2 linked regions of the Homo sapiens genome follow. The protein of the gene in region 1 purifies or fractionates together with the protein of each later gene. This does not show direct contact. Each region holds a gene or a part of one and is shown in the gene's direction. Other genes may lie near its edges.

The links.
Region 2: the proteins of C11orf54 (region 1) and COA7 purify together in Homo sapiens (co-immunoprecipitation; 2 studies listed by BioGRID and IntAct, with this or other methods). This does not show direct contact.

Annotation. Positions count from the first base shown.
Region 1 is NC_000011.10:93,758,608-93,762,529, forward strand, and holds part of C11orf54 (ester hydrolase C11orf54), read left to right. Parts: intron 1-1,134; coding exon 1,135-1,251; intron 1,252-2,907; coding exon 2,908-3,081; 3' UTR 3,082-3,922. UniProt on the Homo sapiens protein: Exhibits ester hydrolase activity on the substrate p-nitrophenyl acetate, in vitro. Regulates DNA damage and repair by regulating HIF1A degradation via chaperone-mediated autophagy (CMA).
Region 2 is NC_000001.11:52,691,672-52,695,593, reverse strand, and holds part of COA7 (cytochrome c oxidase assembly factor 7), read left to right. Parts: intron 1-2,726; coding exon 2,727-2,867; intron 2,868-3,922. UniProt on the Homo sapiens protein: Required for assembly of mitochondrial respiratory chain complex I and complex IV.

The DNA of each region.
Region 1 (3,922 bases):
CGGTCGCTGTCGCAGCCCAGCCAGGTGTGCACACGCTCAGGGCACTGCTGACACACCAGCCCCCTGCCGTCCCGGCCCCTTCTGGATTTGGGGCGCTGACACGAGCGTAGAAGGGAAGCTGAGCGGCGGCTGAGAGCAGCTCCCCACTGGCCTTCAGGCACCCCTTGGCACCTACAGCCTGGATTCCGTGATCGGCAGCAGGAGGCAGACAGGTTCCGGGGCAGAAGGGGGCGGGTTTCCGGTGAGGCCCCACTTTCGGGCCAGGGAAGGCCTGAAGGCTGGGGGCCCAGCTGCCAATCCCACACACCAGAGTGGAAACTTGTGGTGCTTTTTCCAGGCCCACTGTGATCATCCCACTGCACTCCAGCCTGGGTGACAGAGCCAGACCCTGTCAGGAAACAACAGATGCTGGAGAGGTTGTGGAAAAATAGGAATGCTTTTACACTGTTGGTGGGAGTGTAAATTAGTTCAACCATTGTGGAAGTCAGTGTGGTGATTCCTCAAGGATCTAGAACTGGAAATACCATTTGACCCGGCAATCCCATTACTGGGCATATACCCAAAGGATTATAAATCATTCTGTGATAAAGATACACGCACACATATGTTTATTGCAGCACTATTCACAATAGCAAAGACTTGGAACCAACTCAAATGACTGGATTAAGAAAATGTGGTACATATACACCATGGAATACTATGCAGCCATAAAAAAGGATGAATTTATGTCCTTTTCAGGGACATGGATGAAGCTGGAAACCATCATTCTCAGCAAACTATCACAAGATCAGAAAACCAAACACCCCATGTTCTCACTCATAAGTGGGTTGTTGAACAATGGGAACACATGGACACAGGGAGGGGAACATCACACACCGGGGCCTTTCGGGGAGTGGGGGACTAGGGGAGGGATAGCATTAGGAGAAATACCTAATGTAGGTGACAGGTTGATGGGTGCAGCAAACCACCAGGGTACGTGTATACCTATATAACAAAACTGCATGTTCTACACATGTAACCCAGAACTTCAAGTATAATTAAACAATAATAATAAATAAGTAAAATATATTTTTAAAATTTTTAATTCTTAGTAATATTCAGTATGTTTACCTATGTAATTATCTTTTGTTGTAGCCTGCAGAATTTTCTTCCTGCCCCTTGAACTCTGATGAAGAAGTGAATAAATGGTTGCATTTTTATGAAATGAAAGCTCCTTTGGTTTGTCTACCAGTTTTTGTCTCCAGAGACCCAGTAAGTCTGTGTCTGTTTTTTATATTATACTACAATGATAATGCTTGATTTTTAGGATAATCTTTAAGAACTAGGCACTTTTGTGTTTGTTGTTGTTGTTGTTTTGAGACAGAGTTTCACTCTTGTTGCCCAGGCTAGAGTGCAATGGCAGGATCTCAGCTTACTGCAACCTCCGCCTCCTGGGTTCAAGCGATTCTCCTGCCTCAGCCTCCCGGGTAGCTGGGATTATAGGCATCTGCCACCATGCCTGGCTAATTTTTGTATATTTAGTAGACGGGGTTTCACCACGTTGGTCAGGCTGGTCTCAAACCACTGACCTCAGGTGATCCACCCACCTCTGCCTCCCAAAGTGTTGGGATTACAAGCATGAGCCACCATGCCCGGCCATGTGTTGTTGTTATTTAAGAATGAGGGTAGCCTCTAGAATTATTTTGGAAGATAAGGGAGCTCTTCACCATCCTATGAGTTAGGCAGAGCAGATTTTACCTTTGAGAAAATGAAGGCACAAGCATTTTAAATAACACCCAAAATTATTTTATTAAATAGCAGGTGTAGTTGGGCATGGTCACATGCCCCAGTATTCTTAGCTACTGAGGAGGCTGACTTGAACCCAGAAGTTTGAGACCAGCCTGGGTAACAGTATAATCCCCATCTCAAAAAAAACAATTAGTAGAGTCACAACTAGGATTCAGGTCTCCTGTCATCTTGTTTGGTGTTCATTATATTATAATACTATACGCTAGAAAAAATATTACAGACCAATTCAAAGCAAATACCTACTAAAATATTGGTCATATCTTCTCTTTTTTTTATTTTTTGTGACAGAGTCTCGCTCTGTTGCCCAGGCTGGAGTGCAGTGATGCAATCTCGGCTCACTGCAACCTCCGCCTCTTGGGTTCATGTGGTTCTCCTGCCTCACCCTCCTGAGTAGCTGGGATTACCGGTACTCACCACCACACCCGGCTAATTTTTGTATTTTCAGTAGAGACAGGGTTTCGCCATGTTGACCAGGCTGGTCTCGAGCTCCTGACCTCAAGTGATCCGCCCGCCTCAGCCTCCCAAAGTGGTGGGATTACAGGCATGAGCTACTCCGCCTACCCTGGTCATATCTTGATCCAGTGATTACATGCCTAGGATATTATACTTAAATATATGCATAATTGTGTAAAATTACTAGTTAAAAGGTTATTATTACAGTATTGTTGTAGTAGCAAAAGAATTAGAAATAATGCAAGTGTCAGTTGAGAAGTTACATACGCAATAGAATACCATGCAGGTATAAAAGAATGAGGAAGCTCTTTTATGATTTCATATACAAAGATCTCAAAACTATATTGTTACATGAAAAAAAGTTACATGCAGAAAAGTGTGTACAAAATACTACATTTGAGTAAAAATAAAAGTAAGTATTTATGGAAGGATATACAAGAAAATGCTTACACTGGTTACCTGCTAGGAAGGGGAGTGAGTGGTGAGGGCAAGAGAGAAGAAGATACATTTTACTGAATACATCGTTTTGCCCCCTTTGAATTTAGAACATGTGAATGTATTACCTATTTAAAAAATAAAAACTATTGCAACGTAAAAAGTTATCCCTCCCCCTTAAACTCTAATCAATAATTTGAGTACTAACATATTGTTTGTCTGTTATCTTAGGGGTTTGATTTGCGACTGGAGCACACTCATTTTTTTAGTCGTCATGGAGAAGGTGGACACTACCATTATGACACTACTCCAGATATAGTGGAATATCTTGGATACTTCTTACCTGCAGAGTTTCTCTATCGCATTGATCAACCAAAAGAGACGCATTCAATTGGGCGAGATTAAATCAGCTGATACTTATTTAGAAAAAGAAATAATTAAGGTTAATTAATTGATTGACTTATTAATTAATACTGATATAAAACCAATAGAAATGATCCCACAGGCCAGGCACAATGGCTCATGCCTATAATCCCAGCACTTTGGGAGGCTGAGGCAGGAAGCACACTGGAGCCCAGGAGTTTGAGACCAGCTTGGGCAACATAGCAAGACCCTGTCTATTTTTTTAAAAAAGTAAAAAATAGAAATTATCTCACTACTTAAATCCCATTTTTTTCACTTCATATGAAAGAACATATTGATAGTATATTCTATATTATTTCATAGATCTGTCTGAAAGAGATTGGGAACAAAAATATCTAATTGAGATATTCTTTAATTTTTTACATAGCAGCTTTATTTTTTTTATTCTGTAGTATCAGCGAAATCAGTCATGTTTATACCTTGAATATAAATATCAGGAATCATGCAATTATTTCTACTATGTATTTAGTAGTATCTTATATTTGTATAACATTATTACATTTTGCAAATTAGTATCACAACTGCTAAGTAGATGTTTCTGAGTATTAGAAAAATCAGTGTTATTACCTGCAGGATATTAAAAAACATTTGAAAAAGAGAAAAAGAAAAATCAGTGTTTAGAAATGTTGATAGTTATTGAATCTTTGAATTGAATTTTAAAAATCCATTCTAGTAATCAGAGTATACTTTTTTTATAGAACAAGGTGGCAGGTGGGGAGCCCTTTACCCTTCTGGTGAAGTTAAACCATAGAAGTTTACAATTTGCCTTTCACAAACATTAGCAGTCCGGGCATGGTGGCTGAAGCCTGTGATCCCAGCATGT
Region 2 (3,922 bases), on another chromosome or scaffold:
TTATATACCCTCACATAATTAAATTCCTCCATACTCAGGCATATATGAACATATATACCAGAGTAACGTTTTTGTTGGGGGGTGGGGTTGTTTGTTTGGTTTTGGTGGCTTTTTGGTTGTTTGTTTTCTGAGACAGGGTATTACTCTGTCGCCCAGGCTGGAGTGCAGTGGTGCAATCTCAGCTCACTGCAACCTCTGCCTCCCAGGTTCAAGTACTTCTCCTGCCCCAGCCTCCCAGGTAGCTGGGATTACAGGCGTGTTCCACCACGCCTGGCTTTTTTTTTTTTTTTTTTTTTCCCTGAGGCTGAGTCTTGCTCTGTTGCCCAGGCTTGAGTACAGTGGCACGATATCAGCTCACTGCAACCTCTGCCTCCCGGGTTCAAGTGATTCTCCTGCCTCAGCCTCCCAAGTAGCTGGAATTACAAGCGTGCGCCACCAAGCCTGGCTAATTTTTGTATTTTTAGTAGAGACGGGATTTCACCATGTTAGCCAGGCTGGTCTAGAACTCCTGACCTCGAGTGATCTACCCGCCTTGGCCTCCCAAAGTGCTGGGATTACAGGCATGAGCCACCACACCTGGCCTGAATCATATTACTTATTTTCTTGAAACCCTCCAGTGGTTTACTGTTTCAGTTGGAAAAAATCATAACTCCATCCTATGTTTCACGAGGCCTATGGTCTGGTCCCTACCTTCCTTCTTCATTTCCTGACCCTCCTCCTTGGTTCAGCCATGTTGTACCTTATTCGTGCCAAACTTATTCTTTCAGGTCTTTGTATTTACTGTTCCTTGTGCCAGGACTTTGTGCCCCTGCCCATTTTATTGTCTTTTAATTTCATTTTTTATTTTTTATTTTTAAATTTTTTCCAAATCCCTGCCCCACTCCCATTTCATTGTCTTTAAATAGCTAGTGCTTTCTTGTTATTGAGGTCACAGTCCTTGGTGAGCCCCTCCCCAGTGGCTCAGTCTTTGTTAGCCATTCACCCAAAGTTGACAGCAAACAGTTATCCTGTTTTACTTCAGTCATAGCATTTATGTATTTATTTGTATAAATTTAAGGGGTACAAGTGCAGTTTTGTTACATGGATATATTGCCTGGTTGTGAAGTCTGGGCTTTTTTTTTTTTTTTTTTTTCGAGATGGAGTTTTGCTCTTGTTGCCCAGGCTGGAGCGCAATGGCGCTATCTCGGCTCACCGCAGTCTCCGCCTCCCGAGTTGAAGTGATTCTCTGCCTCAGCCTCCCGAGTAGCTGGGATTATAGGCATGCGCCACCATGCCCGGCTAATATTTTCGTATTTTTAGTAGAGACGAGGTTTCTCAATGTTGGTCAGGCTGGTCTAGAACTCCCGACCTCAGGTGATCTGCCTGCCTCGGCCTCCCAAATTGCTGGGGAAGTCTGGGCTTTTAATGTAACCAACCATCACCCAAATAATGCACTTGTACCTGTTAGGTAATTTTTTATTCCTCACCATCCTCCCACCCTTCCCAATCTCCAGTGTCTATTATTCCACACTCCCTGTGTCCATGTGTACACAGTATTTAGCTCCCACTTATAAGTGAGGACATGCAGTATTTCACTTCCTGTTTCTGAGTTGTTATAACATTTATTACTGTTTGAATAAATTTTGTTCATTTATTTATTTATTGTATTTCCTCCCCTAGAATGTAAATTTTAGGAGGGCAAATGAGTATATTCTCAGCATCTAGAACCATGTCTGGTACATAGATGCATAGAGATGCTCAAATATTTGTTGAACGAAAATGAATGAGAGATATATGTTGTCACTGGGGGTAAAGAAGAGGGGAGAGAGATTAAGGAAAGAGGTTTACTGGGACTGGGAGACTGCCAAGGAAGTAGAGCCTATTTTCATTAGAAGCTGCCGCCTCTACTCTTTCTCTTTGGCTTTCATGTTCCTACCCTGGCTGAGGAGTAAGCTATAGTCATTACAGCACCCTTTTCTTTTTCTTTCTTTCTTTTTTTTTTTTTTTTTAAGACAGAGTCTCGTTCTGTCACCCAGGCTGGAGTGCAGTGGCGTGATCTCGGCCCGCCGCAACCTCCGCCCCCTGGGTTCAAGCGATTCTCCTGCCTTAGCCTCCCAGGTAGCTGGGATTACAGGTGTGCGCCACCACACCTGGCTAATTTTTTTATATTTTTCCACTCCTGGCTAATTTTTTTGCATTTTTAGTAGAGACAGGGTTTTACCCTGTCCAGGCTGGTCTCGAACTCCAGACCTCAAGTGATCCTCCTGCCTCAGCCTCCCCAAGTGCTGGGATTACAGGCATGAGCTACCGAGCCTGGCCCAGCACCCTTTTCTTGCTGCTACAAAGACTAGCCTATGAGCCTTTTAGGTTTTCACTGTTTTTACCATTTAACTTCATGAGAGATTCCAAAACTAGCAAAGTTTCAATCATGGAAGTCAGTGGATACTTGGGCGTGGCTGACAGGGAGCAGAAGGGCTGGTGAGTGGTAGAGCCAATGCAGGGGCTGAGGTCTCCCCAAGCCATGCATTGCTCAGTCCATGGCTGTGGGGAGACAATGCCATTTGTAGGAATGGCTAAACACCACCTACATTCTTTGTGGTAAGGCCAACTTGCCACACATCAGGAGGACAGGGGCTGTCTTAAAAGACATCACCTGGCCTGCCACACCTGGGCACCCCCTACCCCCAAGTCCCCACTGCGAGCAGCAGCCCCAGACATGAAGAACAACCCTTGCCCTCTTCTCGCAGGTTGCTATCGGCTGGTGGACTATTTGGAAGGGATCCGGAAGAATTTTGATGAGGCTGCCAAGGTGTTGAAGTTTAACTGTGAAGAGAACCAGCACAGTGATAGCTGCTACAAACTGGGGGCCTACTATGTGACTGGAAAAGGTAAGGAGGGCCTGCCTTTTGGGTCCTTGTCATTGATAGCAGTGCTGGCCTCACACCTGAGCCCCATGATAAGCTCTTGCAGAAGGGTCTCGCAGGCATTGGGAAAGTGCATTGTAGGAAGATGGAGAGGTAGGAGTTCAGCAGAGTGATGGGGGGAAGAACACAGCCTTTCAAGTTAGGTAAACCTTAGGGAATGCTATTGGCAAGTAGTGGGACCTTGAGCCAATCACTTCGACTCTGTGCCTCAGTTACATCACCTGTAAATTGGAGGGAAATAGTACTTGCTTTGTAGGGTGGTGAGGATTAAGTAGGACAGCATAGGAAAAGGCATCAGCATGTGCTTGGCACAGAGTAAGGGGTCAGTAATTATTGTCTTCCTTCTGTCTTTTCTCCTTGTACTCTAATTGTAGTTATCACTGGCATAGTGTTTACATTATCTATGGCTAAATAACAAAATAGTTATTTTTGTTCACCTCAATAGTTTCTGTGGGTCAAGAATTTGGGAGTGGTTTAGTGGGGGTACCTCAGGGTATCTCATGAGGTTATAGTCAAGACATTGGCCAGGGAGCCAGGGCTGGAGACATTGGAAGGCTTGACTGAAGTTGGAGTTTCCAATTCTAAGATGACTCACTCTGATGGCTGGTAGCAGAGGCCTCTAGTTCCTTACCAGCTGTTATTGGGAGAGCTCAGATCGTCATGACATGGTTCGCTCCATGGGCTGCTTGAGTGTCCTCATGACATGGCGTCTGGGTTCCCCCAGAGTGAGTAATTTAAAGGAGACAACAAGATAGAATCCACAGTGTCTTCTATGACCTATCTTTGGAAGTCACACACTTTTCATTTCTATCACATATTTATTAGATGTAGCCTACACTAAGGGGAAGGACTTAAATTCCACTTCTTGAAGAGGAAGGAATATTAAAGAACTTATGGACATATTTAAAACCACCACAGGCCAGGCACGGTGGCTCATGCCTGTAATCCCAGCACTTTGGGAGGCCAAGGCGGGTGGATCATGAGGTCAGGAGTTCAAGACCAGCCTGACCAACATGGTG